Linked DNA regions of Homo sapiens. The protein of the gene in region 3 interacts with the protein of the main gene of each other region in a pairwise test. Each region holds a gene or a part of one and is shown on either strand. Other genes may lie near its edges.

Region 1 (4,381 bases), on a different chromosome or scaffold from region 3:
TTCAGAGCATAAGGTTTATGGTTAAATAAGGACACTAACCAAAGGCAGGCCAGCATGGTAACTATTAAAGGAGTTTAGGGAAAGTTTGAGTTAAGCCTTAAAGATGCTACAGAAAAAACAAAAACCTGTTTCCTGGTGATCTAAATTGGGGAAATTACATTATATTGAAGATTTATACTACATATTAGCATATTAGCATGTTTAAAGATTTAAGAAACTCATAAACTTGTTTTATTTTGTTTAACTCAGTATTTTCCAAGCTTATTTCCTCACAAAACATTTTTCTTTCAAGTAATGCCTATAACATACCTTAGGAAATAGTGATGTGAGTGAAAAATAGAAAATAAAATCAAAAGATGGTTGGAGATGGCCGGGCGTGGTGGCTCACGCCTGTAATCCCAGCACTTTGGGAGGCTGAGATGGGTGGATCACGAGGTCAGGAGATCGAGACCATCCTGGCTAACACGGTAAAACCCCGTCTCTGCTAAAAATACAAAAAATTAGCCAGGCATGGTTGCAGGTGCCTGTAGTCCCAGCTACTCAGGAGGCTGAGGCAGGAGAATAGCATGAACCCGGGAGGTGGAGCTTGCAGTGAGCCGAGATTGCACCACTGCACTCCAGCCTGCCTGGGCAACAGAGCGAGACTCCATCTAAAAAAAAAAAAAAGATGGTTGGAAACTGTAAAGGAGCTTAAATGATAAGGGTAGATCAAATAAGTTCTCAAAGACATAATAAGAACTCATCTTATAGGTTAGGTAGTCAATGAATAGTCTTAGGCAGGGGAGTGATACAGATGTTCTCCTTTAGTACAAGTACTTTGGCAAATCTGAGACAGATGTATTGGGATGGAGGTTGGTGTACGTGCACAAGAGGAGGGGGTGGTGTGGAGTTGGGGAATGCAGGGAAAAGTTGTGGAACAGGAGGTATGGAGCCAAATCAAGAGAAGAGGTTCAGGGAGGCTTCAGAAAGCAAAAATCCTCCTTCACTGACTGAAATTTGTCTTGCTCAAAGAGCTTGCTTGATCTTCCCTCATAAATGTGCTAGGGATGAAAAAAGCTTCCTGTTTATGGGATGGTCCAGTCTAGTTGTCTGGGAAGGCCAATAGCTGATACTGTTTCCTGGGATCAGGTGGGAGGAAGGATTCTGCAGAGGACAGAGGCAGCAATGAAAGGCTGGAGTGGTGGACCTGCACAAAGAATTTAGGTCAAGACAGCCTTATCCCTTCTTATTCATCTGTACAGAAGATCTGCCCCTGTACACCAGGAAATTTTCTGTTGCCTACTTTGCTCACCCGTCAGTCTCCTAGAGATTCTGAAAGGGTTTTAAGATTAGCAACAGGATACTTGAGAGGAAAACATTACAGTTACCTGACTTCGGGGTTTCTGAAAAGACATACTTGGGCAGAGACTCAAAAGCGTAAAAGATCAATTGTACCAATTATTAGCAATGAAACACTAGGCCCCATGTTTAAACTTCTCTGAACTGGTTTCTCCTTTATAAAATGCACGCCAATATCCACCTGGATGAGACTAAAATGAAATTATGTCTGAATGAGATTATAGTCTGAAGACTATAAAGAACTATAAAAAATCAGTTATTTGTATTTTGAACTAATTTTATCTCATTTGACAGCTTGTTTTAAGATTATACTAGGCCATATTGTTCTTAGTATATTAAATAATAATGTGAGGCCGGGCACAGTGGCTCACGCCTGTAATCCCAGCACTTTGGGAGGCCGAGGTGGGCAGATCACGAGGTCAGGAGATCGAGACCATCCTAGCTAACACGGTGAAACCCCGTCTCTACTAAAAATACAAAAAAAAAAAAAAAAAAAATTAACCAGGCGTGGTGGTGGGCGCCTGTGGTCCCAGCTACTCAGGAGGCTGAGGCAGGAGAATGGCGTGAACCCGGCAGGCAGAGCTTGCACTGAGCAGAGATGGTGCCACTGCACTCCAGCCTGGGTGACAGAGCGAGACTCCGTCTCAAAAAAAAAAAAATTATAATGTGAATGTTTTCCCACTGAAATTGGTTCCCTTATTTATGAATAAAATAAAACCATATTTGAGTGTAAGAGAAGAAAAATCCAAAACTCTTTGCTCTATCCTACAAATATTCTGTAAACAAATCATGAATCTCTGAATGTATGGTGTTCTTGTTATTATGAGTAATTATAGTAAAACTAATGATCAGAACCTGTAAGATTGCTCACATGCCCCCCTCACCCTACCAAATGCACATACAAACAAGGCAGAGGGGAGACCTGATCAATTTGGCTGGCAAGAACTTTATCTGTGGGCAGTAAAGATGGTCAGGTATGGGAATAGGAGGTAACTGGGACTTGGACTTCTCTTCTAGTGTTTATCAATGACCTCTACCAGCCCCAGAAGAATAGAACGATTTGTTTAAAAAAATAAAACAAAGGAGCAGTGTGCAGTGGTTCGTGCCTATAATCCCAGTTACTCAGGAGGCTGAGGTGGGAGTACTGCTTTAGTCAAGGAGTTCAAGGTTGTAGTAAGCCATGATCATGCCACTGCACTCCAGCCTGGGCACAGAGTGAGACTCTGTCTCTAAAACAAAACAAAACAACACTGTTCAAAACAAAACAAGGGAACCATGACATCCAGTAAGAACACAGAAGCTATTTTTTTTCCTGGCATTAAAAAGAGGCAGCAATAATCCCAGCACTTTGGGAGGCCAAGGCGGGAAAACAGCTTGAGCCCAGGAGTTCGAGACCAGCCTGGGCAACACAGGGAGACCCTATCTCTACAAATAATAATAATAATATTAATAATAATAATTAGCTGGGCTTGGTGGCATGCACCCGTGTTCCCAGCTACTTGAGATGCTGAGGCAGGAGGATCGCCTGAGCCCAGGAGATTGAGGCTGCAGTGAGCCGTGATTGCACCACTGCTGCACTCCAGCTTGGGTGACAGAGCGAGACGCTGTCTCAAAAAAAAAGAGATGCAAAGCCACTAGGCACATCCCAAGGGAGAACTCAGGCATCTATTTGGCAACTAACAGAATTTTAAAGTTACTCCCTATAACCACTTTCAACTGAAGATCTCAAAACACCGTGTAAACATTAATTAAACCTCTCAAGTCAGGAAAGAATTAGACCTATTTCAGATAAGAAAAATAACGTAGGTAGGAGGCTGTTAACAACAGGAATCAGAAAGGAAACTAGACTCTAGTATCTTTGGCTTTCTCCATGTTGTCCTCAGGCTACACTTAATGAAATGCACCCAAGCAGCAGCATCCTCAATAATGCGGCTATGTTGACAAGCAAATGCTTTTTAAAACAGGGGCTGAATGGAAGGAATATTGGCATTGGTTGGAATTAAGACCCCTGTTCTAAGCCTGGTTCCACCACTTACTAGTTATATGACCCTGAACAAGTCATTCAATTTCCTTAAACTTTAGTTTCCTCATTTATAAAACTATATCAAACCTAAACCTATCTCACAAGGTTGTATCGAATTAAATTATATATACCTGGCACACAGGTATTGAGAGGCCAGCTTTCTTCTTTCCCCAAACTCCACCTTAAGTCCGTAGATGACACATATAAAAAAATACATTGTTTATATATATAACTATATATATGATTATCATTCTTCTAACTAATTAAAAAAATAAAATCTGGAGGATACTAACATAATACTTGGCTAAAATAAGAAATGGCCTAATTTTTTAATAACTTCCAAATAGTTGAGAGTTGTCACCAAGCTTGAAAATTATTTTCTGTGCATTTTTATTGATGTGAGCAAAGACAGAAACTGACTTTAGAAAAATAAAAAAACAAACAGGGACCTTTTCCAGAAAGATGATCTGCCACATTTCTTAGAACTCAAGGAAACATCTCAGAAAGGAGTTAATGTACTATTCCAAAATTAACTATGCAGTGTTTTGTTTTTTTTTTTTCTTGAGACAGAATCTCGCTCTGTCACCCAGGCTGGAGTATAGTGGCCTGATCTCGGCTCACTGCACCTCTGCCTCACAGGTTCAAGCGATTCTGCCTCAGCCTCCTGGGTAGCTGGGACTACAGGTGTGCACCACCATGCCCGGCTAATTTTTCTATTTTTAGCAGAGACAGGATACCACTATGTTGGCCAGGCTGGTCTTGAGCTCCCGACCTCAGGTGATCCACCCACCTTGGTCTCCCAGAATGCTAGGACTATAGGCGTGAGCCACCGAGCCTGGCCTGTGTTCTCTTAATATTCGTTTGGTTAAGAAAACAGATCAACAGTATCTGTAAAACTTTAATATAAATTAACCTCAGAGGGCCAGTAAGATCACTAGACATAGACAGTTCCATGAACCTAAAAGGTCCTTCCTGATACTTATTAACTGAAAGTGAAAGTGAGCCACCATAAACACCATT
Region 2 (4,846 bases), on a different chromosome or scaffold from region 3:
ATAAATCAAGGAGTAAAAAGTTTTTTAAGTCGTGACCTCATTCTCAATGGAATTACCTGTTGAGGAAATAATAAGATATTTGATTTCATAAAGCACTCTCAGGAGACCTTCCACGGCGACCCTGCTGAAGCTACCACCGAAGAGTCCCCATAATGCATGACACCCCCTCTTCCTAACCCCCTCCACACAAACATACATTCAGAAAAGGACGGGACAGGGAGAAACTCCTTTACACATGGGTGCTGGAGTTTAGAATTGACACCCTCACCATTAATATTTCCTAATTCCTCATACAATGGAATTTTTAGAATAGATTTTATAATAAATCTAAATAATTACTTATAATAAAATGTAGACCGAACAGACAGAAACACAAGGCTGTGGCTTTTATTTTATGGTTTGAAAAGTTCTATGAGACAACATTAATTAGTAACATTCCTCAGTGGACTGCAATGTAGTTTATTATAAATGGTAATTTAGAGATAATGGTATGAACGTGTTAAGTTCCAAGCAACCCATCTAAAAGAGAAAGTGGAACTCAATATTGATGGGCATTCTCCTCGAAGCCCTGAGTACAGCTTATATTTCACCCTAAATTATCTTTTTTAGCCTTTCATATTGAGACCATTTAAGCAGCATTTTAAAATAGATTACTAAAAGGGAAAGCAGACGATAAAATATATAAAGCAAGCATTTTAGGCAAGAATCCAGATTATGTAATTCTATATGATCAGAGAGATAATCACCTGGTTTCTGAGAGGACTCATGCCTTCAGATAAAATAACAATGGATTACATCTCTTCCTTCCCACCCCACCCTCTTTGGCAGGCTTTAATTAGAAAGATACTAGTGTAGATTGAAGTCTTAGCCATACTCAACTCTTCCCTTGACCTGAAGAAAACCACAGCCATAGAGAATCTGGTGGGATACAAAACATTGTCAGTTTCATCCAAGTACACCAGTGAGCTTAAATAGAGCACCCAGGAGGTGCACTCTTTATGCAAGAGAAAAAAGGTGACCCCTTACATATTGATGATTTGACTCACATAATGGTCTTACCTTCTGGATCAGAGCCTTGAAGTGTCAAGCACATCATTTCCATATAGACAAGTAATATTTCCATGCAGGAGAAGGCTAAGATAATCTTCCAGATGTAAACCAAGGACCTGCTGTCTGGGTCTTTGCATTTGTCAGTTGTGTATTTATGTGCGGGACACAGTAACTATTGAAGCAAACCGAATTCAAGCAAACTAAAAAGCAAATCCTTGCATAGTACTTAAAGTCCAATGAGATAAAATGATGGATCGAAAGGATTATTTTTGCTTAATGAAGCATTCTGGGTTTTGAGTCTCATTGGACTCAGTTTTTCAACAGGATGTTTTGCTCAAGGGCTGGAATTTGGAAATTCCACAACAGCTATATAATCAGTCAGCTCTGATTAATTTAATTGAAACAGGACTCTTGATGAAGCCCTGCTGTGCTTATAATTAAAAATTTAGAAAGGGGTAGATGATGTGGGGATTTCTTTTTCCTGTGAAATTAGCTGAGTGTATTAATTCAGAAGGTAGGCAGTTGCCTCTGATTGTATGCTTCGGTAATCTGAACCATCTGCCTCTATATACTAAGGAGTTCACCACTTTAATCCAGCTTACGGCCGACAAACCACTCTTCTCTATCAGTATGCCCTTGAATAGATGAGGTTGTGCAAAGTCCTTTGCTCTTAAATGTATTGCTGTCATTGAGAATATTTGGAGGTTTTCTCTTGGGTTTGTTTGGATTTTTTTTTTCAGCTTTTGTCTGAATTTTGGTTTTATTTTTCTGGGGCAGAGAAAATGGCTTTCCTTATGAAAAGTATGATAAGTAACCAGGTAAAGAATTTAGGATTTGGTGGTGGGTCTGAAGAAAATAAAGAAGAAGGAGGTGCATCTGATCCTGCAGCAGCTCAAGGGATGACTAGAGAGGAGTATGAGGAGTATCAAAAGCAAATGATTGAGGAGAAGTGAGTACATGCTATTTCATTTCCCTTAAAAAGCAAAGGAAATTCATTCTGGCCATACCTTCTTCAGTTCTCCAGTTTATTTCTCTTTGCTTTTTAAGATGCCTTTCCTTTTGCCGTTTACCTCTAACCCAAGGAAAGGTTGTTCTTCTAAAGTAAACGGTTCCCTAACATCAGCAGCTACTATGTTCTATGTTCTACATGTATGAATGGAAATGAACAATAATAAATGAATCTATATGTTGTTCTTAAAGCAGCTTAACACTTTCTGGTCTAGGCATGTTTTGATTGACCTCAATTTAATTATTTAGATGAAAAGTGGTAGGTTTAACTATCTTTACATTCTTTCTAAACTTCACCCTCTTAGCACGTAGAAAGTCTTCAAATTGTAAGAATTCAGACCTTATACCTAGAAAAGGGCCTAAAATAACATAGAGGGCAGCTTCTTTGATCTTGCATGTGAGAAAAAAAAAAAAAACCCAGGAAGCATAACATGACAATTATGTCATAAGACTTGGCTTATCAAAGACTATGAATGGATTTGTGGACTGTTTAATATGGAAATTCTAAACATACAGAAAAGTAGAATAGTAGGACAAATACCCACATATACCTATGACATAAAATCAACAGCTTACAGTTTGCTACATTTGCTTAAAGATTAAAAAGATAGATGGTAGATAATAGCTTTTAAAGTAAATTACAGATGTCATGTACTTCACCCCCAAATACTTCAGCCACCTTCCTCCAAAAAATAAAGGCATTTTCTTGGCTATATAAAATATAACAAAAATAAAATATAAAATATAAGCAACATTTAATTGGGTATTATAGAATGTGAATATCACCAACAACTTTTCACCACTTGAAGACTGATTCTGAAATAAATGTAATCTCTGTGTAATTTTTAAATGTTTAAGGTAGAATTAAGATTCTTTTAATAATCAGTTAAGAAATGAAACATCAATCTAGAGGTTAAATGTTTATCATATGTTTCAAAAGAAAAGTATTTCTTTTTTGCCACCAGGACTCTTTTGCTAATGATCAATTACATAATAGTTGCCTAAATCCTATCGCTAAGATGATTATAGGTGAAAAGGTTAATGACCTGGAGGAAACAAAGAAAGTACAAAGACTACGTTTAGTGGAAACCTTGTCTATTGTATTTTTCTGAAAGAAATCATGGCTTATAGACTACCTAGAATACATTATGCTTGGTTCTGCAGTAACTTAAAGTTGGTTTTTAAAAAACAGTCAATGCAACTAGCAAAAATGATGGTGCTAAGACTTGGGCAAAAGAAGCAGCATTCCTTGAATATTGGCTGATTTTACCTATGGCATGCAAAAGAACAAAAAGCTTAAAAGCAAAATAAGTACTGTGTAATGAAGGATAGAAGACAAAAATCAGCATCAAACATTCTCAGATCAAGTAGGCTAATGAAAACAGAAATGTAGACTACAGTTGTGAGCATGCAAAATATCACCTAATATGTTCAAGCAGCAGATCCGATTGCAGATAAGGCATCTATTTGATTAACTAATGTCCTAGTTTTCCTTAATTTTATATCTGGACAGATCAAAGCTCAAAATGGCCAAATCATACAGTCAATCAGCAGACTGAGTTGTCAGCTACTCAGCTTTTTGCATATGTGTGTGAGAATATTATATATTTATGTAGTCACTCAATGTAAGAAATAGTGTCAGGACAATGGAGCATTTGGCTTCCCTATGATAAAGAGGGATGACTTTCAGTCCATTGTTTGAGTTTTCAAGAATTTCACCACCTAGAATGCAATATGTAGTAGGCATTAAAAATAATTCATCACAAGATAAACGCAGAGAGAGCTACAAACAGTTTAGTATATATAATAATTAAAATCAATGTTAGCAAATGAAAGCCTCCTAAACCCATCCTCATCATTGTAGGAAGTGGGGAGACTATATGAATTATAAATAAAAAACTATTTAGCAATGCACTCTATTTAATAATGCACATTCATTTTTATTTTCTTTCTGTGTTCAATGTGTGTGTGTGTGTGTGCGCACGCACCACTGGTAACATTAGTACTGAAAGAGGTCTAAACATAAATAGACTATCTGGAAAGGAAATAAAACAATAGTCTGTTTCTCCCGCCATTTTCTCAATTATATTAAAATGCTTCTTTGCCATAGTTATGCTTCAACAGTTTCTACAATATCATTTGTAACTTGACTCTGACCTTTGTTTTATTCAGTAATTGTTTGGACCCCTAGTATGAGCATAGCATTGTGAGGAATGTACTGAAATGGAAGAGATGGGTTTTCTTCTGCAGGAATTTACACTTTACTTGGTGGGGGGAGACTAGCTAGCTGCATGTGACTATAAACAGAGCAACCAGCTTTTCTGCGTGATTTGTAGACTGGCTCTGGAGGACTGGAATGTAACTCTGCGTGGCATTAGTATCAACAAATCGATCAATGGGGTTTATAGTTATTTGATTTTCAACAAAAGCGCCAAAATAATCAGACCAGGAACGGAAAGTCTTTTCAACAAATGGTGCTAAACAACTGAAAAACATTGAACTTTGACCCCTACTTAACACTATACACAAAAATTAATTTGTCATGCATCATACACGTAAACATAAAAGCCAAAATTATAAAGCTTTTAGAAAAAAAAGTAGGAGAATATCTTTGCAACTTGAAAGTAGATGAAGATTTCTGTATCATGACCCAGATTGGCAATGACCATATCAATGACCATAAAATTATTAAATGATAAATTCAACTCTAAGTTAAAAACTTTTATACGTTAAAAGATGCCATTTAGAAAATAAATGGGCAAGCCAGACTGAGAGGATATATTTGGAA
Region 3 (4,381 bases):
CCTCCCGCCTTCTACCCCAGCCTCCCGCCTTCTACCCCAGCCTCCCGCCTTCTACCCCAGTGCCTCCCGCCTTCTACCCCAGCCTCCCGCCTTCTACCCCAGCCTCCCGCCTTCTACCCCAGCCTCCCGCCTTCTACCCCAGCCTCCCGCCTTCTACCCCAGCCTCCCGCCTTCTACCCCAGCCTCCCGCCTTCTACCCCAGCCTCCCGCCTTCTACCCCAGCCTCCCGCCTTCTACCCCAGCCTCCCGCCTTCTACCCCAGCCTCCCGCCTTCTACCCCAGCCTCCCGCCTTTTACCCCAGCCTCCCGCCTTCTACCCCAGTGCCTCCCGCCTTCTACCCCAGCCTCCCGCCTTCTACCCCAGCCTCCCACCTTCTACCCCAGTGCCTCTCGCAACCGCAGTTCCCCATCTCAACTCTCGGGGTTGGAGGAGTGATGCTGCCTCCCAGGTAGTCTTGTGACTTTCAGAAAGTCCTTAAACCTCTCTGCCTTATTTTCCATACCTGAAAAGCCGGGATAACCTCAAGCCTACCTCACAGACAATAGCCTGGTGAGGATTAAATGAGTAAGTACAGCATAGAGCATCTAGAATAATACTTGATAGTATGAGCTCAAGGGATAATTACTGACAATACTATTTTTCTTCTCATTTTTCTTTTCTTTTCTTTTTTTTTTTGAGACAGAGTCTTGCTCTGTCGCCCAGGCTGGAGTGCAGTGGCGCCATCTCGGCTCGCTGCAAGCTCCGCCTCCTGGGTTCACGCCATTCTCCTGCCTCAGCCTCCCAAGTAGCTGGGATTACAGGTGCCTGCCACCACGCCCAGCTAATTTTTTTTTTGTATTTTTAGAAGAGATGGGGTTTCACCATGTTAGCCAGGATGGTCTCGATCTCCTGACCTCATGATCTGCCTGCCTCGGCCTCCCAAAGTGTTGGGATTACCGGCGTGAGCCACCACGCCCGGCCTTCTTCTCATTTTTCTAAAGAAATAGCTAGCAGGCATGATGTTATAGTCCCAGCACATACGCCTATGATCCCAGCACTTTGGGAGGCCAGGGCAGGAGGATCACTTGAGGCCATGAGTTTGAGACCAGCCTGACTAACATAGCAAGACCCCGTCTCTATAAAAAATTAATTAAAGAAAACAACCAAGGCCGGGTGCAGTGGCTCAAGCCTGTAATCCCAATACGTTGGGAGGCTGAGGTGGGCCGATCACCTGAGGTTGGGAGTTCAAGACCAGCATGACCAATATGGAGAAACCCCGTCTCTACTAAAAATACAAAATTAGCTGGGCATGGTGGTGCATGCCTGTAATCCCAGCTACTCGGGAGGCTGAGGCAGGAGAATCGCTTGAACCCGGGAGGCAGAGGTTGCAGTGAGCCAAGATCGCACCATTGCACTCCAGCCTGGGCAACAAGAGCGAAACTCTGTCTCAAAAAAAAAAAAAAGTGGGGGGGCGGTTTAAGAAAACAACCAGGGGCTGGGTGTGGTGGCTCATGCCTGTAATCCCAGCACTTTGGGAAACTGAAGTGGGCAGATCACCTGAAGTCAGGAGTTCGAGACCAGCCTGGCCAAAATGGCAAAACCCTGTCTCTACTGAAAATATAAAAATCAGCTGGGTGTGGTGGCAGGCCCCTATAATCCCAGCTACTTGGGAGGCTGAGGCAGGAGAATCACTTGAACCCGGGAGGCAGAGGTTCAGTGAGCCAAGATAGCACCACTGCATTCCAGCCTGGGTGACAGAGCAAAACTCCATCTCAAAAACAACAACAACAATAACAAAAAACAACAACCAAGCATGGTGGTACATGCATGTAGTCCTAGTATTCATGAGGCTAAGGTGGGAGGATCGCTTGAGCCCAGGAGATCAAGGCTGTGGTGAGCCGTGATTGCGCCACTGCACTCCAGCCTGGGTGACAGAGCAAGACACTATCTCAAAAAAAGTAAGGCCAGGCATGGTGGCTCACACCTGTAATCTCAGCACTTTGGGAGGCCGAGGCAGGATGATCACTTAAGGTCAGGAATTTGAGACCAGCCTGGCCAACATGGTGAAACCCTGTCTCTAGTAAAAGTACAAAAATTAGCTGGGCGTGGTGGCGGGCACCTGTAATCCCAGCTACTCGGGAGGCTGAGACAGGAAGAATTGCTTGAACCCGGGAGGCAGAGGTTGCAGTGAGCCGAGATTGCACCACTGCACCCCAGCCTGGGCAACAGAGCGAGACTTCATCTCTGAATGAATGAATGAATGAATGAAAATAATTTTAAAAAATAGAAATAAAGGAATAACCTACAGATGACCAAGAGACAGACAAAAAGGCACCTGAAAGCATAAGCAGTCGACCAATCATGGTCTGTTATTCTTTGGTAACACGGAACTCTCAAAACCAGAAAACAAGTCAGCAGACACATCTCAGAATGACAGGGGTCCTTGGTCTAAGACCCTAACTCACGGGTCAACCTTCTAACCCAGCACTTCTCAACTGAGGACAGCTGGCAATGCCTGGAGAGATCTTGGTGGACACACCTGGGGCAGGAGTGCTACTGGCATCAGTGGGCAGAGGCCAGGGATGCTACTCACTATCCCACAGTGCACTGCACGGCCCCCACAAAGACCCATCAATAGTGCTGGGGTTCGCCATGTGCCCATCTGTGAAGCAATCACTGAGAATCTGAAGAAACTCTAGACTCTGAGCCCTGCCATTACCAAGATGTGTTTTTCCAAAGCCACATCTGGTGACGTGTTTGCACAGGGCCATCCACACTCTCTACCCCTTAGTTGCGGGCCTCCATTTCCAAAATGGCCAGCCACACTGAGAGCTATAATCAGGACCTTCCTCCAAAATTGTCCACAAGGAAAGAGTTGACCAGGAGTCCCAGATTCTAAAATGGAGGCCCAGCTAAGTGACCTGGGACAAGTCACTTGGAGCCTCAGTTTCCCTGCCTGACAATGGGGTCACGGCATCCACTGGGCCCCTTCACATACCAGGCAGGAGGGGACTTCCCAGACCTGGAGACCATGAGTGTCAGGAAATGAACACGATCCAGGCCTTGGGAACTGAACTAAGCTATGAGCTCAAGCACATCTCCACCAGGGATGGCAGCCTAGTGGCCACTACACCAGCAACCCCAGTGGGGAGGGCACCCCACACCCACAAAAGGACGCTGCCTGCTTACTTGTCCGGCAGGGCACCTTCCTATAACAGCACCCAACTTTCACCCGGGAAACTACTTATCTTCTTCTCCCATCACCCATGTGGCCATCCCTCCACCGCCCAGGGCCACAGACTTAGCACACGGCATGGCGCTGCCCAAGCAGCTTCTCAGTGATTGGTTCACAAATGGGCATTCAACCAATCCCAGCCAATGAGGACTGAACCCAGAATGTCGGCTGAAGTACTGGGAACGAGAAACTCTCGGCCAGGCACAGTGGCTCATGCCTGTAATCACAGCTACTCAGGAGGCTGAGGCAGGAGAATCGCTTGAACCCAGGAGACAGAGGTTGCAGTGAGCCGAAATCATGCCATGGCACTCCAGCCTGGGCAACAGAGTGAAAGACTCCATTTCAAGAAAAAAAAAAAAAAAAAAAGAGAGACACTCTCCTTCAGCCAGGGTGGCACAGCCGGCAGGAAGCAAGGCTGGAGAATATAAGCCTGGCACTGCTGGTGAAGGGGACAGTCACCCTGAGAGTGACACCAATCCAGAGGAAGGCAGAATTTAGAGGGAAAAATACATGCCCCAAAACACCCTTTGACTCCTGGATCCAGTGATGCCTGAAGCAACTCCCAGTCCTGTCTTTTTCCACTGAGATTTCCATTCTCTGCTTCAGCCTGTTTTGAGTTGGACTTCTGTCCCTCAGAACCAGGGCAGCCCCCGGGCTACAGCTGCACCTACCTCTGGAGTGTAAGCTTCAAGTCCTTGAGGTGCTTCTTCTGCTTACTGATGGAACTGCTACACAGCGTCTGCAGCGCAGCCAGCTCCTCCAGCTTCTGCTTGTAGATCCTGTGCGTCTCCTGAAGAACAGGGGACCCGGGGGAGGGTGTGTGGGAGAATATGAACAGCTCATTTTCTTTTCTTTTTTTTTTTGAGAGAGTCTCGCTCTGTCACCCAGGCTGGAGTGCAGTGGCATGATCTTGGCTCACTGCAACCTCCGCCTCCTGGGTTCAAGCGATTCTCCTGCCTCAGCCTCCCAAGTAGCTGGGACTACAGGTGCCCACAACTACGCCCAGCTAATTTTTTTTTTTTTGGTATTTTTAGTAGAGATGGGGTTTCACCATATTGGCCAGGCTGGTCTCGAACTCCTGGCCTTGTGACCTGCCCGCTTCGGCCTGCCAAAGTGCTGGGATTACAGGCGTGACTCACCACACCCAGCCAATAAATCACTCTTTA
Region 4 (4,168 bases), on a different chromosome or scaffold from region 3:
TGGCTGGGTGCAGTGTCTCACACCTGTAATCCCAGCACTTTGGGAGGCTGAGGCAGGGAAGATCCCTTGAGCCCGGGAGTTCAAGACCAGGCTGGGCAACATAGTGAAACACTGTCTCTTTAAAGAAATACAAAAATTAGCTGGGCGTGGTGGCACACACCTGTAGTCCCAGCTACTTGGGAGGTTGAGGTGGGAGAATTAATTGAGCCCAGGAGTTCGAGGCTGCAGTAAGCTGTGATTGCACTCTGGCCTGGGTGACACAGGAGACCCTGTCTCCAGAAAAAAAAAAAAAATGCATGTAACATGCTTGGAATAATATTTGCCCCTTTAAGTGCTCAATAAATACTATTATTTATTTCCTCATCACATCTCTCACTTATTTTTGTTTTACTTCTCATCATTTTATTTTTAGCATATCCTTTTATTTCCTTTTATTTTTTTAATTATGAAATTTTTTTTTTTCTTTTTTTTGTTGAGATGGAATCTCACTCTATCACCCAGGCTGGAGTGTAGTGGCTGGATCTCGGCTCCACCTCCCAGGCTCAAGCAACCTCCACCTCCCAGGCTCAAGCGATTCTTCTGCCTCAGCCTCTCAAGTAGCTGGGATTACAGGTGCCCGCCACCATGCCCGGCTAATTTTTTTTTGTTTTGTTTTGTTTTGTTTTTTGAGGCGGAGTCTCGCTCTTTCCCCCAGGCAGGAGTGTAGTGGCGCGATCTCTGCTCACTGCAAGCTCCGCCTCCTGGGTTCACGCCATTCTCCTGCCTCAGCCTCCCGAGTAGCTGGGACTACAGGTGCCCGCCATCACGCCCAGCTAATTTTTTTGTATTTTTAGTAGACACAGGGTTTCACTGTGTTAGCCAGGATGGTCTCGATCTCCTGACCTTGTGATCCGCTCACCTCGGCCTCCCAAAGTGCTGGGATTACAGGCGTGAGCCACCGCACCCAGCGTGTAAGTTTTGTGTTTTTTTTTAGTAAAGACGGGGTTTTACCATGTTGGCCAGGCTGGTCTCCAGCTTCTGACCTCAAGTGATCCGCCTGCCTCAGCCTCCCAAAGTGCTGGGATTATAGGCATGAGCCACTGCACCCGGCCTAATTACGAAAATTTTAAGTGCATACAAGAGAGAATAATATAATGGACCTCCATGTAAGTATTGCCCAGATTTAACTCTTATCGAGGTTTTTCATACTTCCCTTAGCATTACATCCCAAAGTACAGTCTTATGCAGTTCCTGTGCTGTGCTTAGATATCCCAACAGTGAAGCTCACTCAGGTTGTTCTGAAGATATTACATACTCTGATCTTACATTATTTTTCAGCATTTTTTAGAAAAGCAACATGTTTGTTATCTAAAATTTCTGAGACACAACCTTATGAGTTTGGTATCTTTTCTGTCTAGATTTTTCTTTGTATTAGGAGGAATTGGTCTTCCTTTTTTTCTTAAAGTTTGAATTCTTCTTTACAGTCAGAAGAAGAAGTTGTAGAAGGAGAGAAGGAAGTCGAGGCTTTGAAGAAAAGTGCGGACTGGGTATCAGACTGGTCCAGTAGACCCGAAAACATTCCACCCAAGTGAGTTCTCACATGTTTCTTGTCAGTGGACACAGTTGATCTGCGCACGCTTACAGGCAATGGGCCTGGTAATCCCCACGATATTTTCAGCAAATGACATCTGCCTCTGAATTTCTTTCTCAGGGAGTTCCACTTCAGACACCCTAAACGTTCTGTGTCTTTAAGCATGAGGAAAAGTGGAGCCATGAAGAAAGGGGGTATTTTCTCCGCAGAATTTCTGAAGGTGTTCATTCCATCTCTCTTCCTTTCTCATGTTTTGGCTTTGGGGCTAGGGTAAGTACCGGTCAACTCCTGAAGTTTTTTCCATTCATTTTATCCTCTTATTTTCAGATTGAAGAAATGTATGTGAAAGCAGTTTTTATTGCTTTACTTTCAATGTTTTAGTGCAAATAAGGTGAACTTAAAAAAGTGGGTGCACAATTGTTCTACAAATAAGCATTTTTAATAATAGTAGAGTGTGTTTTCTTATTTGAAAATAAGATGTTTGGCCTGGTGTGGTGGCTCATGCCAGTAATCCCAGCACTTTGGGAGGCCAAGATGGGTGGATGACCTGAGGCCAGGAGTTCAAGACCAGCCTGGCCAACATGGTGAAACCCGGTCTCTACTAAAAATACAAAAATTAGCTGGCCATGGTGGTACATGCCTGTGGTCCCAGCTACTTGGGAGGCTGAGGCAGGAGAATCGCTTGAACATGGGAGGCGGAAATTGCAGTGAGCCGAGATCATGCCACTGCACTCCAGCCTGGGGGATAGAGTGAGACTCCATCTCGGAAAAAAAAAAAAAAAAAAGAAGATGTTCATAATAATCCCCTAAATGATCAAATGTAAGCGGACTCCTCTGTGATTGATTTTTCTTTTTGGGTTTTGTTGTGTAATATTTAATCTTGAGTAATTTATGAACTAAACTAATCTTTAGCATGTACATTTTGTGGTCAGTGCAAATACCTTTTTTTCATATGGGAAAATACATGATTACATTGAATAGTTTTTTTTAATGAAACTGGTAGGTTGATTGGTGCTAATTTTTTCCTTTTTTAACTTTGTAGTATTTTCATTTATTTTGCTAAAATCAACCTCATATTTACGTGTAATTCATTAGTTTCTTAGCCACATCTTTTAAATAAATTGCTTTTTTTCCTTGATTTAAACAATTGAGGAATTACACTTCTGAAAGATTTTAGGAGTTAAACAGTAGCTGTTAATTTTTTTCAAGACGTATGTTGTGCTCTAAGCATGCCCAGTGGGTCATTTTCAGTATAAGATATGCAGAAGATGGGGTCATCCTTTTTCTTCCCTTTAAGGAGCTCAGCATATTGGAGAGAGATTCTTAGTCACGACCTCAGAAACTTGCATACAGCTTTCCACACACCCGTCTTGTCTCTCTTGGGTGCTTGATCTGCTTTTGTGAGGGCAAGGACAGTAATCAACAAACAGCAACCTAGAAGGGGTTTGTGCAGAAGGGGACTGTGTGACTGTTGCGTGGGGGTTGATGTGGGGCAGGTGTAGGAGTTTAATACATTGCTGCCTATACAGCAGTTCATTGCCCTTAAGCGATTGGTGTCTATACCTTGCCGTCTCTCTTTCAGTCATCTTCAGATTGTTTGTCTTGGCTGTAAGTATAACTATTGCTATAGATGAATGTAAAAAGAGTGTTTAAAAAGTTCGTTGCTTTAATTGCACTGGAGGTGAAGCTAGTTACATACTTTCCTTAACTTCCCTTCTGCTTTTGCTGTTGAAGAGGCCAAATACTTTCTTGGCATGAAAAAGTATTATAAGGCCCCTAATCCTTAGGAGTTATTAGTAAGAGCTGTCTTTAAAGCACTGGCAGCTTTTAAGGTTTTTTTTTTCTTTTGTCCTACATAGAGCACCAGAATAATTTCACATATTACTATATTTTTGTGTCTGAAATGTCAGTAGAACCTTCTGTCCACCAAAGAGGAACATCTTGAAGGAGTTGGGCTGCTTTATTTACTCTGTGGAGGGATCTGTTCTCTCTGGCTTTACTTTGTCTAATCACTACCCCTTTGCTGTCGAGCCCCGATATTTAATGAGTAAACAAACTCATATAAAACCAGTTTGGCCGGGCTGGTGACTGGTTTTAAGAAAGTCAGTGATGATTTCACGGTGTTTGGGGAGCGGTACCCACAAACCTTTAGAGCCTTTTACAAAGACTGAAGAGTTTTAAGTAGAGTTCAACCTGTGGACAAGCTGGTATAGAACTGTTGAAACAGGTGAAACATGATGCTTCTGCTTCCTTTCAGCATCTATATTGGAAAGCGACTGAGCACACCCTCTGCCAGCACCTACTGAGGGAAAGGAAAAGCCCCTGGAAATGCGTGTGACCTGTGAAGTGGTGTATTGTCACAGTAGCTTATTTGAACTTGAGACCATTGTAAGCATGACCCAACCTACCACCCTGTTTTTACATATCCAATTCCAGTAACTCTCAAATTCAATATTTTATTCAAACTCTGTTGAGGCATTTTACTAACCTTATACCCTTTTTGGCCTGAAGACATTTTAGAATTTCCTAACAGAGTTTACTGTTGTTTAGAAATTTGCAAGGGCTTCTTTTCCGCAAATGCCACCAGCAGATTATAAT
Region 5 (4,381 bases), on a different chromosome or scaffold from region 3:
CCTTAGTGTGATCGTGTCCCTTAGTGAACTGTGTGAGCAGCATTAGTGTAATTCCAGCCTTCTGTTCAGTGCCTGACACTGGTGTCCAGTAAATATTTGATGAACACATGCATAGATAATGTCAAAGCTAAGCCTGAAAAACGCAGAGGCTCACCAGACAGATGAAGGGAACGTGAAGGCAGCTAGCAGAGACTGGACACGTCTCTTCAGGAAAATGAGCATGATCTAAACATGGCCAAAGCATGGCGCGTGCTGGGGAGAGGCAAGATTTTAGGCACCATGGTAGCACGAAGGAGTGGCAGAGGCTGGGAAGCCATCCCCAAGGGGAGTCACTTCCATTAGCTCTTGAAGGATAAAGGGTGTTTGTCAGATCTGGGAGGAAGGGAGAGGAAACAGCAGCATGGTCGTCTACGGAGTGTAAGGACCTCGGGGGTGTTCAGGACCTGAAGAGCTGGTCCAGAAAGAAGGGAACATGGAGGAGATGGCGGCCTGGAAGCTGAGCTGCAGAAGTGGCCCTTCTCTCCAGTGACCCTCAGCCTGGCTGGCTTGCCCACTCCCAAGACACTACTGGGCTTCACTTGTCTTCTCACCTCCCCAGGTTGGACCTGCCATCTGAGCCCAAACCCACATGTTCAGCTGCCTTCTTCAAACATCGCTTGGATGGCTTCACCAAGATTCATACTGAATGCATCCACACTGAACTCCAAATAGCCCCCAACCCACCTGCCCAGAAACCCAGGGGTTCCTCTCCACAGTCACCCCCATTCTGGCCCCACCACCTCCCCTTTCACCTCTGCACTGACAGGGCTCCTCCTGCCCTTCACTCCCCTCCCGTCCACTCTCCACGCTCTGCTCAGTGCCTCTGTTTAGGATTTTGGGTTTTTCCTAACAGTGGCAGGAAAAACCCAAAATCCTAAACGGAGCCAGAGGGAGGCCTCCATGCTGGCCAGCCTCCCTCTCCAGCTGCCTGCCCTCCTCTGCTCTATGGTCCCAACTTGGAACCTTCTGTTTTGTTTTGTTTTGTTTTGTTTGAGACGGAGTCTCACTCTGTCACCCAAGCTGGAATGCAGGGGCGCAATCTCAGCTCACTGCAACCTCCGCCTCCTGGGTTCAAGTAATTCTCCCTGCCTAAGCTTCCTGAGTAGCTGGGATTATAGGCGCCCGGCTAATTTTTGTAAAAACTCCAATCCTTCCAACACCAGGTTTCCTCCACCTGGAGCTAAACATTCTTTAGCTCACCATAAATAAGTAACTGCTTTCATCTCAAACAAACTAAGCCCCCCAAACTCTCCACAGGACCATACATTTTCTTTCAAATCCCTTATAAGTTTCTGGTGATTTTTTCGGTTGGTTGGTTGGTTTTGGTTTTTGTTTTTGAGACAGTCTCTCGCTCTGTTGTCCAGGCTGGAGTGCAGTGGCACAATCTCGGCTCACTGCAACCCCTGCCTCCCAGGTTCAAGTGATTTTCCTGCCTCAGCCTCCCAAGTAACTGGGACTACAGGCATGCACCACCATACCTGGCTAATTTTTTTTGTACTTTTAGCAGAGACAGGTTTTCACCATGCTGGTCAGACTCATCTCGAACTCCTGACCTCAAATGATCCTCCTGCCTCGGCCTCCCAAAGTGCTAGCATTACAGGCGTAAGCCACCTCGGCCTCCCTAAGTGCTGGGATCACAGGCGTGAGCCACCTCGGCCTCCCTAAGTGCTGGGATCACAGGCGTGAGCCACCTCGGCCCCCCAAAGTGCTGGGATCACAGGCGTGAGCCACCTCGGCTCCCCAAAGTGCTGGGATCACAGGCGTGAGCCACCTTGGCCCCCCAAACTGCTGGGATCACAGGCGTGAGCCACCTTGGCCCCCCAAAGTGCTGGGATCACAGGCGTTAGCCACCTCGCCTGGCCATCAGTTTCTGACTACACAAAGTCACACGCAGGGGTGGAGGCTGGATTCTGATCTGCCAGGAACCACTATCATTCAGAGTACATCTCTAACGCCTCTACTAACAAGGTTTTTGTGAGGACTCTGCATTCATATGTGTAAAGCACATAAAACAGGTGCTTAACACAAGTAAACACCAAATGCATATTTATTACACCCCCATGCGGTTACTCTCTTGGACCCGTCTTCCCATGACAGAGGAAGTCCTACCATAGTGGGGATTATCATTTGCTTTGCTTGGCACTATTTTTTCAAAGTTTAACATGGTTCTTGGCACACAATTCACAACTAACAACAATGAATAAATAAATGGATAAAAGAGAGTAGGATCATGACAGTACTAGAAGAACATTCTGGCCAGTGCAATGGCTCACACCTATAATCCCAGCACTCTGGGAGGCCAAGGCAGGTGGATCACTTGAGCTTGGGAGTTTGAGAACAGCCTGGGCAACACAGTGACACCCCATCTCTACCAAAAATACAAAAAATTAGCCAGGTGCGGTGGCACATGCCTGCAGTCCCAGCTACTTGGGAGATGGGAGGATCACTTGAGCCTGGGAGATCGAGGCTGCAGTGAGCCATGATTGCACCACTGCACTCTAGCCTGGGCAACAGGGCAAGAACCTATCTAAAAAAAAAAAACAAAAAAAAAAAAACAAAGGACAAAAAAAAGAAAAAGAACATCATGGTAGTGTGTGGAAAATGACAGAAGGAAAAAGATAATACTAGAAACCAGGAAATCAGGACTTCAAGCTGCAGAGGTTTGGAAGAGCAGACATAAGAAAGCAGGAAGGGAGCTGACCAAGCCAGGAAGGAGATTTACCAAGTGAACAGGTGTCCTCATGGACCCTGCTTGATGTGAAAACCTGAATCCACAGGAGCTCTGCCCAGCACAGTTCCCCGTATTTTCTCAGCCAACTATGCATGAGAGCAGAGAAGTTTGGTCATCAGATCACATGTGCATTTAACAAACACTTTAACGTCCACACCTATGTGCCAGGCACTCTACTAAGCAGACAAAAGAGGGCATAAGTATGGTCCCTGCCCTGGCAGAATTCACATTCTAGGGTGGAGACAGGCCACAAACAGGTAAATGAGTTGAAGAATGGCTTGTGGCCAGTCGCAGTGGCTCACACCTGCAATCCCAGCACTTTCAAAGGATGAGGTGGGCGGATCACGAGGTCAAGAGTTCAAGACCAGCCTGGCCAACATGGTGAAACCCCATCTCTACTAAAAATACAAAAATTAGCTGGGGCCAGGCACGGTGGCTCACACCTGTAATCCCAGCATTTTGGGAGGCCGAGGCGGGTGGATCACGAGGTCAGGAGACCAAGACCATCCTGGCTAACATGGTGAAACCCTGTCTCTACTGAAAAATACAAAAAAATTAGCCAGGCGTGGTGGCGGGCGCCTGTAATCCCAGCTACTGAGGAGGCTGAAGTAGGAGAATGGCGCGAACCCAGGAGATGGAGCTTGCAGTGAGCCGAGATTGTGCCACTGCACTCCAACTTGGGCCACAGGGCAAGACTCTGTCTCAAGAAAAAAAAAAAAATTAGCCAGGCGTGGTGGCAGGCGCCTGTAATCCCGGCTACTCAAGAGGCTGAGGCAGGATCGGACGCGGTGGCTCAGGCCTGTAATCCCAGCACTTTGGGAGGCCGAGGCGGGTGGATCATGAGGTCAGGAGATCGAGACCATCCTGGCTAACACGGTGAAACCCCGTCTCTACTAAAAAAATACAAAAAATTAGCCGGGCGTGGTGGCGGGTGCCAGTAGTCCCAGCTACTCGGGAGGCTGAGGCAGGAGAATGGTGTGAACCCAGGAGGTGGAGCTTGCAGTGAGCCGAGATTGCACCACTGCACTCCAGCCTGGGCGACAGAGTGAGACTCCGTCTCAAAAAAAAAAAAAAAAAAAAAAGAGGCTGAGGCAGGAGAACTGCTTGAACCCAGAAGGTGGAGGCTGCAGCAAGCTGAGATTGCACCACTGCACTCCAGCCTGGGTGACAGAGTGAGACTCCATCTCAAAAAAAAAACATATAAATAAATAAAATTTTTTTTGGCTGGGCGCGGTGGCTCATGCCTGTAATCCCAGCACTTTGGGACACCGACACGGGCGGATCACCAGGTCAGGAGATCGAGACCATCCTGGCTAACACGGTAAAACCCCGTCTCTACTAAAAATACAAAACATTAGCCGGGTGTGGTGGCAGGTGCCTGTAGTCCCAGCTACTCGGGAAGCTGAGGCAGGAAAATGGCGTGAACCCAGAAGGCAGAGCTTGCAGTGAGCTGAGATCATGCCACTGCACTCCAGCCTGGGCGACAGAGTAAGACTCCATCTCAAAAAAAAAAAAAATTTAAATGGTTTATGATAAACATTCTAAAGTGTGTAAGGTGCTGAGATGGAGAGGACTATTTTAGATAGGGTGGTCAGCTGACATTTACACTAA
Region 6 (4,381 bases), on a different chromosome or scaffold from region 3:
AAAAAGAGCGTCGGTAAAGCTGAAGTTGTGGATAAGGGTTGGAGTGAGACTCTGCAGAGACTTTCTTCCTGAACTCTAATCTAAGATTTTGAGATCCCTGCCTGAATTCCAGTGGAGGGAGAGAACATGCTATCATCCAAGAATCTTTTAACTAGAACTTGTGCAACCTGCATTGGAGTCTCAGCTTTGCCACTAGCTTACTATATAACAACCTTAAAGTGCTATCTGGTTCCTTCTGTGTAATGTTTGGAAGTTGGCACGGGTGATATCTAACATCCTTTTCAGCTCCACAGATGAATGGTAGAGAAATCTTTGAAGAATATTGCTAGAATTGACAGAGTGCCCATCCCCTCCCCGACCCCAAAAAACTTTGGAAGAAGTGTACACAGTATGCCCATCTTTGCCCATTCTCAGTTTCTTTGCAAACTGAGTGTTGTCTCACCAAACTGAAAAGCTGTGGAAGGGAAAGAGAAGTGGTTCAGGACACTTGGTTGTTAACTGTAAGAAAAACAGCTTCCCTTCGCCAGGCGCAGTGGCTCACGCCTGTAATCCCAACAATTTGGGAGGCCGAGGCGGGTGGATCACCTGAGGTCAGGAGTTCAAGACCAGCCTGGCCAACACGGCGAAACCCCATCTCTGCTAAAAATACAAAAATTAGTCGGGCATAGTGGTGCGTGCCTATAATCCCAGCTACTAGGGGGACTGAGGCAGGAGGATTGCTTGAACCTGGGAGGTGGAGGTTGCAGTGAGCCAAGATTGTGCCACTGCACTCCAGCGTGGGCAACAGGGCGAGACTCCATCAAAAAAAAAAGAAAGAAAAACAGCCGCCCTTCACAGATACAATTTCATTTGATTTGCATGCAATTCCAATATTGAACAATAATGCTGGGTTAGATGTGTTCCCCCTTCCAAAGTTGATTTTTTAATATGATGTACAATATGAAGGGAAAGAGTCTTTCCATTTACTTTCTGCATGCATGAAAAAAAGTTTCCTTATTTCCTTTGTTAAAGCATGTAATAATTTTTATTTTTTAAAGAGATTTAAAAAATAATACAATACAATAAATAATTAATACAATAAATAATTAATACAATAAAATAATAATAATTGTATTAAAAAAATTAATACAGACGATGTCTCGCCATATTGCCCAGGCTGGTCTCTAACTCCTGGGCTCAAGTAATCCTCCTGCTTCAGCCTCCCATAATGCTAGGATTATAGGCATGAGTCACCATGCCCAGCCTTTAAAATAAATAAATAAATAAAACCCTATATTTGCCTGTGCATCACAGTTTACAATGTAATTTTCAATACATTGCTTGTTTTGGTCCTCATGTCTATCCCTGAGGTAGTCAGGGGAAAGAGTGCTATTTCCAGTTTAGAGATGAGAAAATGAGCTCGGGGAAGGGAAAGGACTTGCTAGAGAACCCTTGTTTTCTGATTTCAGTCTTCCAGTGCTCCTTCTAGCACCTCTCATGGACACATGTGCTACTATGCACAATCGCCAGGAGGGCACCTGTCCTCCCATTTCTCTTCTGAGCTACCGTCCCATCTCTCCCCAACACCATCACCTGTCCTAGGGCCTCACTCACTAGCACCTAGTACCTTCTCTGCCCTTCTTCTCCAGGCCTGCCCTTCTAGTTGCCCTGTGTGTTTTCCTCTCTTCCCCTGGTGATCTTTCGTGCATCCTATTCAAGGCCCTAAGTGACCAGCTAAATTGACAGAACAAGTCACGTCAGGGTGTCAGCATCTAAAAATAACCTCATTTATTACCCCTTTTTGGAAATTGTTTATATTCTAATCAAATTTTTCATTATCTCAGTGCAAAGGAAAGCATTCTAGAGCAATCTCAGGAGGAAAAATTGGGCATTGTCCAAAGAAGAGAAAGATTTGAGGGTATCAGAGAAGCTGGTTCATAATTCTTTATTATCTGCCTCATGATAGATGGATGCTACTACTCCCTAGTGAAATATGATCATTATTAATAATCATGTTTTTCCTTCTCATAAATTTCTTCATTATTATTATGGGAATTGAAGAGAAGAACAAAGGTCAAATGATTTGGTCAACATTATTCCAAGAGTTTGTTACTTTTAGTCAGCAATGTAGTTTGAGCTCCTGCCATATTTACAGCCTTCTTTGAATACCTAGAGGGTTTCATAGAAAGAAGGGCAGTGGTGGACTGGGTGCTGTGGCTCATGTCTGTAATCCCGGCACTTTGGGAGGTCAAGGTGGGTAGATCACCTGAGGTCAGAAGTTTGAGACTAGCCTGGCCAACATAGTGAAACCCTGTCTTTACTAAAAATACAAAAATTAGCTGGGCGTGATGGCAGGTGCCTGTAATCCCAGCTACTCAGGGGGCTGAGGCAGGAGAATCGCTTGAACCCAGGAGGCGGAGGTTGCAGTAAGCTGAGATCATGCCATTGTACTCCAGCCTGGGTGACAAGAGTGAAACTCCATCTAAAAAAAAAAGAAAGAGAGAGAGACAGAGACAGAGAGAGAGAGAGGAAAAAAAGAAAGAAAGAAAGAGAAAGAAAGAAAAAAAAGAAAGAAAGAAAAAAGAAAGAAAAGAAAAAGAAAGGAGAAAGAAAGAAAGACAGTGGTGTGCTGAAGACTCAAAGGATGGAGAAACAGACATTACCTCTTGAAGCAAGGAGCAGCAAGTCATACTGCAAAAGGCAAGCAAACAGAGGTGGGGGAACTTTGTGGCCATTTTTCAATGTACTCTTCAGGATCATACGAGCAGAGTTCTCATGCCCTGAAACTAGATTTTGACCAGAAGGGAAGGAGTGGGACTTGCTCTATGATGATACCTTGGATTATTGTTGCCTTAGGGGCAACCAAGAAAAGAGAGGGGCTACCCCACTTTCTGCCATACCCCATTTGCCATCCTGACTGCTTTCCCTCCATTAACTATAAATGAACTAACTATGCTTCTATCTCTGCCATCCCATCTACTTGTTCACTAGAGCACATCACCTCTCACCTTTTCAAAGATGTTAATCCAGCAAATCATTTTCTTGCATTTCATTTCTTTCAAACTCCACCAGCTCTACTGTCATCTTCACCAAAACAAAATCGTCTTCCAATCCGATCCCTGTACCAGACCTCTTAACTGTTTTGATTCCACCCTTGTCCCTTTCACTTCATCAGTTTATTCCCAACACAGCATCAGATCATATGATCTTGTACAAATTAGATCCCATCATTCTTCCTCTCAGAACCTTCTGCTGCTCCATGCAAATGCCATAAACTCTAAGCAAATGCCAAGGTTCTAACATGGCCAATAAGACCTGCTGTGATCTGGCCCTCCCCATCCCTCCTACTACTTCATCCCCTTCTATTCTCACGTTGTTTGCTGTAATTTCCACATTGGACTGTTTGCTGTCTGTTGAGCATGACAAACACACTCCTTTGGGCCCCTTGAGCCCTTGAGTTGCAATTTCCTGTGTTTGACATGCCTTCACACAGATATGTGTATAGCTTGTATCCTCATTTCTTTTCTTCAGCGCCTGCTCAATGATACCTTCTCAGAAAGGCCATCCTCCAATGACCCTGTGCACACACTCTCTCCTGTTTTATTTTTTCTCACAGCACTTTTTACTATTTAATGTTGCTGTTTTCCCTCTCCCTCCATTGGAATGTAAGCTCCATAAAACAGGGATTCTTTTCTTTTGTTCTCTGGTGTATTCTTCGTGCTTAGAATAATGCCTGGCACCCAGAAGGCACTCAGTATATTTGGGAAATAAACGAAAGATAGAATAACATGAATAATGACATTTGTACAAAGCACATTCATGTAAATTAATCCATAAAATTCTCATGATAAACCTACTAGACAGATGTAACTTTCAGCATGATGTCGATGAATAAACTGAGTCCAGAGAGATTACATAGTACATCAAACCCAACTCTTCAGTTGCCAGATTCTATCTTCACCCTGCCTCTATAATTGTAACTGTGCATTCCTTGAGACTTCTTAGTCCACTTCTGAGTTTGTCAACATGAAATGAATGAATTTATCTTTGCCAGCTCTCATTAAATATGAATGTGCCTTGAGGTTCCATACTACACGGAGTTCTTGCTGCATACGCTCTACCCCTCTGCCCACTCACAAACTTTTGCGCAAACCACATTTCCTTTTTGTTTAATCAGATCTATAATCAATACTTCAGACTCATCATATGCTGAAGATGTTTCTGATCAGTTCTCCCTAGATGTGAGTCCTCTCTCCATTAACGTGGCTCACCATCTGCAGAAGCAATAGGTCCTCTTGAAGACTGTCAGATAAGACTCACCCAGCTTGCTGGAGAGTTGAAAACCCAATTACATTTATTTTACCTTGATGTTTACAACTTTAAGTTAATTCTAGTGCCACTA
Region 7 (4,381 bases), on a different chromosome or scaffold from region 3:
TTATTAATTTTTTATTTAATTTAATTTTTTTGAGAAGAAGTCTTGCTCTGTCGCCTGGGCTGAAGTGCAGTGGCGCAATCTCAGCTCACTGCAACCTCCACCTCCAGGGTTCAAGCAATTCTCCTTCTCAGCCTCCCCAGTAGCTGGGATTACAGGCGCCTACCACCACACCAGGCTACTCTTTGTATTTTTAGTAAGGACGGGGTTTCACCATGGTGGCCAGGCTGGTCTTGAACTCCTCACCTCAGGTGATCCACCCACCTCAGCCTCCCAAAGTGCTGGGATTACAGACGTGAGCCACTGTGCTTGGCCTCAAGTTTTGTTTTTTAGAGCTAACTCTAAGCAGTTGAGGGTTGTTACCCAGAGTGCTATAGAAGGGTTCTGAGGCCAAGTCTAAGCTCAGAGGAAAACAGTGCTGTGGTTAATTACTAGCATGGGAATAGCAGGATGGAGTGCTAGCATCTGGGCTAAGTGTTTGCCACCTATGGAAGATAATCTCTGAGGATCCTTTGGGCTCTGACATTCTACGTAGTATATGTATGGTACATTCTACTATTCAATCTGGTTTGGAAATGAGGCTTTTGCCTAATAACATATTCTAGTTAAAAGCAATTCCTAATTTTCAAAATAAGGAGATGATAGGGCACATTTAATAACATCGTAAACATAATTTAATCTTCTAAACGTAACAGTTTTGAAAGAAAGCACTAGAGGGTTCTGTAGTACTACCAGGTTATCATCACAAAGCAACAATCATCATACCAGGAAAACCTAAACATTTTGGTTAATGCAAAATTCTGAAGTCGCATGTCAAATGAGCTACTATCCTATTTGATGCTGGCTAAGAAATTATAGTGACCAGTTTGTGGCTTAAAGGGCATCCTAAGAAAAGAACAGCGTTCTGTGGTCAGCCAGTGATGACCAGCTACTACTATTTTCTAACAACAAATTGGTTTGCTCCTTGTGTCTTGGGAGATTTGTCAAGTCCACAGCAACTCCTCCTATGAAAACTGCTCTTCTTCTTCAGCCCATTCACAGGCATAGGGCTGTGGAACCATATTATTATGCTATCTTTGCACTTTGACCAAAGTTGGACCAAAAAGACTGTCTCTTCTGTGAATGTGGAATTAGGGCTGGTCTGTGTTCTTTAGTGTTCACCTGGCAGACATCTAAACCTGGGAGCTAGACATTCTCCACCACAAGCTATCTACAGTGAGATGTGGCACAGGAAAGGGAATGACTAGTTCCCTGAACTGCCTTCTGGTTCCAATTTTGGTGAGACTTGCCCCTACTTCCTACCTTTGGGTTTGGTGAGATATCCCTGAAATTTTACACATTATCATCTTTAAAGATACTCTTTTCTAGGTTAGGTTAACAAATATTTCCTCAGTGCCTCCCAGAGGGGCCATGCCACCCATGCAGGGTTAAGACATAGGCAGATGATGATGAAAAGAAGGAAGAAAAAAGGCAGATGTCAAAGTAAGAGAATATAAACAAGAGGAAAAGAGAGAATGAGGAATAGGAAACAGTAAAAGGGAAAAAGAGCCTGAGAAAAGAAACAGAACAAAAAAGAAGCCAAAAATAAGTAAGAGATGGGTGGTATGGATGGAATGATGACCCACTTGCTCCGAAGTTGGAACTGTTAATTTGACCTTAATATGGAATCGGGAGAATAAGTATGGTACACACAGTCATAAAAGAATGAGGTAACTCTACATGTACTGATACGTCCATAGATATTAATATTAAATGAAAAAAGCAGAGCGCAGAACAACATGTGCAGTATAACCCTACTTTTGTAAAACAAACAAGCCAGTAATCCAAAAACCTGGTCAAATAAAATCCAAATACACTCAACTGTTAGGAGTGGTGACCTCTGGGGGAATATGATTTGAAGTTACGGGGAGGGTTTTCACTTCTAACTTTACCACTTCAAGATTATTTCAAGTTTTTACAGCAAGCATGTTTTACGTTTTTTTATAATTATTAATAAAAGAGAAAACTCAGTAAGAAAAACAAGTTTAAAAAAAAAGTTACCTTGGCGCGGGCCTCGCGGGACGCTTCTGCTTCTGCAGCCATAGCTCTCTGGAGCTGCACAGGTAGTTTCACATCCTTAATTTCCACACGCTCCACCTTTATTCCCCAGGCATCAGTGGCATCATCCAGAGTAGACTGTTAGGAAGAGAGAAGGCAAGCTAAATCTCCTCAGCCCAGCCCAGATGCTGACAGAGGCTGTATTCATTGGGATTTGGAGGAGATAAGGTGCTGGGGAGAGTTGTGGAGAGACAGTTACCCCACGGTGGAACGAATGGTGACGCAGGGGCTGGCTCACTGATCCTGATTCTGTTGCTAACAAGCTAATGCAGGGGTTAGCAGCTTCTTCTAAAAGGGCCATATAGTGATTGTTTATTTGTAGTCTCTGTCTCAACTATTTAACCCAGCTGTTGTAGTCAAAAGCAGCCATGGATAATATATAAATAAATGGCTGTGGCTATACTCCAGTCAAACTTTACTTACAAAAACTACAGCCTGTAGGCTACAGTTTGCCAACTCCTGAGCTAATGTGACTCTGTGTAAGTCATATTACTCCTTTGTGCTTCAACTTCCTCCCTTTAGAATGTCAGGAATGAAACCACACATCTATTTCATAGGTTGTTGTGCATATCAAATACAATCATAGATTTTACCCACGATGAAGTCTATACAAATAATAAGAATCCAGAGTTATAGCACTTTATCTTTTTTGAATAAGCTATGCTTAACTGAATATCTGTTACTCAAGAAAGACTGGAAAGCACAACAGTTATAATTCATGGGACTCACACACAGAATAAAGCTTTAGGAATACCTACACTATCTTGCAGAATAGCCTCTGTTCTAAACAAAAAGGTTATTACTGATTCTGGAAAAAAATACACACTGAAGAAAATTTTAAAAAAATGTACGCATGAGTGTTATGAACTCATGAACTGCTAATGTGAAAAATGTCCCCTCCTGCCAAATTTGAAAAATTTTACTATGAAGAAAAAAAAACGGTCACAGACCCCCACAACTTGAATTAATAAAAGGTTCTCAAACAACCATTGACTCTTTGCTTCATTTTTCAGCTTCTGGGGGGTAACAGCATTGACGTACTCCCCACCTGCATGTTGTGTGCAATTTCTTCTCTGTCAGAGAGGATCTGAGAAAGATTCTTGGTGCCCAGAACATTCCTCAGAGTAGTTTGTGCCAAAAGACGGGTTGCTGAGTCAGCGTTGGTGATATTTGCCACAGCCAGGGTTGCATTCTGAACGCGGTAATAGACCACACCATCCACGCTAATTGTCACTGAATCCTTTGTGAGGATCTACAAGATGAAGGAAGCAATTTTACATCTGTCAACGACTTTTTTTTAACATAACTGTAAGGAATGTTATTCTACAGAATATCTTATAACACTAGCTGATTTTCTTTAGTAAGGCATCAGAAAGTTAATTATATCTTTTAAAATTTAATAAAATAAATTATTCAAGTCCATTAATTCATTCAATCATACAAATAATATTGAGATATCACTCAACAGCAGGCACTGTACTAGGTACCAGGGATTAAGGTAGGAAAAAAACTTGGTTCCTCCTTTGAAGGAGGTTAGGGAATCAAAGGAAACTCTTAGGGGCAGCTGTGGGTGGCAGGGGTGATACCTGAATTGAATCTTGAAGAAAGGAATACAATTTTTCTGAGGGTGTTGGGTGGAGTGGAAGAATATTCAAGAGAGAGGCACTAGAGAGTCAAGGTTTGATAAACTACAAGTTCCACAATATTACTGGAACAAAAAGTGCATGGGGAATGTTTTTAAAGGGCAAGGTCAGCATCAAAACATATTTTACAGCATGCTACATAAAAATGCTAAACATGACATATTTTTGTTTTAAGCTAAGAAGTTATCTGAGTGAGAGGCTCCAGGAAAATAGTTACATCCATCACTTAAAACTCACTGGGACTCAGTTTTCTCATTTGTAAAGTAGAGATTAATTATAGTACCTACTTTGCATTCTTGCTAGAATTAATGCGTTAAATACATTCAAGTGCTCAGAAAAGTTCCTGGCACGTAAGAGCTGTCTTATTATTTCATCTTGGATAATGGTGGTAACTTTACTGAATAAAACACTGACTTGATTAACTGTAATAAGTTAATTTAGATAATAATAAACAAGCCAGCTGGGCATGATGGCATACACCTGTAGTTTCAGCCACTCAGGAGGCTGAGGCAGGAAGATTGCTCCAGCCTGGGAATTCCAGCCTCTCTCACTAACAACATCAGGCTGGCACCTTTCTACTGATCATTTAAATGTCCTTCTCTCTGTGAAACTTTCTTGGCTTACTTGGCAGAGTTAAGCACTCT

Evidence for each region.
Region 1: the proteins of TMEM120B (region 3) and RNF19B interact in binary tests that used the Homo sapiens proteins (3 or more experiments, as listed by UniProt).
Region 2: the proteins of TMEM120B (region 3) and CPLX4 interact in binary tests that used the Homo sapiens proteins (3 or more experiments, as listed by UniProt).
Region 4: the proteins of TMEM120B (region 3) and BNIP3L interact in binary tests that used the Homo sapiens proteins (3 or more experiments, as listed by UniProt).
Region 5: the proteins of TMEM120B (region 3) and NCAPH2 interact in binary tests that used the Homo sapiens proteins (3 or more experiments, as listed by UniProt).
Region 6: the proteins of TMEM120B (region 3) and SCN3B interact in binary tests that used the Homo sapiens proteins (3 or more experiments, as listed by UniProt).
Region 7: the proteins of TMEM120B (region 3) and STOM interact in binary tests that used the Homo sapiens proteins (3 or more experiments, as listed by UniProt).

What each region holds. Positions count from the first base shown.
Region 1 is NC_000001.11:32,958,067-32,962,447, forward strand, and holds part of RNF19B (E3 ubiquitin-protein ligase RNF19B), read right to left. Parts: intron 1-4,381.
Region 2 is NC_000018.10:59,315,449-59,320,294, reverse strand, and holds the start of CPLX4 (complexin-4), read left to right. Parts: upstream 1-1,645; 5' UTR 1,646-1,832; coding exon 1,833-1,999; intron 2,000-4,846.
Region 3 is NC_000012.12:121,743,253-121,747,633, reverse strand, and holds part of TMEM120B (transmembrane protein 120B), read right to left. Parts: intron 4,006-4,381; coding exon 3,887-4,005; intron 1-3,886. UniProt on the Homo sapiens protein: Necessary for efficient adipogenesis. Does not show ion channel activity.
Region 4 is NC_000008.11:26,406,537-26,410,704, forward strand, and holds part of BNIP3L (BCL2/adenovirus E1B 19 kDa protein-interacting protein 3-like), read left to right. Parts: intron 1-1,463; coding exon 1,464-1,567; intron 1,568-1,690; coding exon 1,691-1,840; intron 1,841-3,827; coding exon 3,828-3,876; 3' UTR 3,877-4,168.
Region 5 is NC_000022.11:50,510,757-50,515,137, reverse strand, and holds part of NCAPH2 (condensin-2 complex subunit H2), read right to left. Parts: intron 1-4,381. UniProt on the Homo sapiens protein: Regulatory subunit of the condensin-2 complex, a complex that seems to provide chromosomes with an additional level of organization and rigidity and in establishing mitotic chromosome architecture.
Region 6 is NC_000011.10:123,647,804-123,652,184, reverse strand, and holds part of SCN3B (sodium channel regulatory subunit beta-3 precursor), read left to right. Parts: intron 1-4,381. UniProt on the Homo sapiens protein: Regulatory subunit of multiple voltage-gated sodium (Nav) channels directly mediating the depolarization of excitable membranes.
Region 7 is NC_000009.12:121,345,978-121,350,358, forward strand, and holds part of STOM (stomatin), read right to left. Parts: intron 3,347-4,381; coding exon 3,143-3,346; intron 2,173-3,142; coding exon 2,038-2,172; intron 1-2,037. UniProt on the Homo sapiens protein: Regulates ion channel activity and transmembrane ion transport. Regulates ASIC2 and ASIC3 channel activity.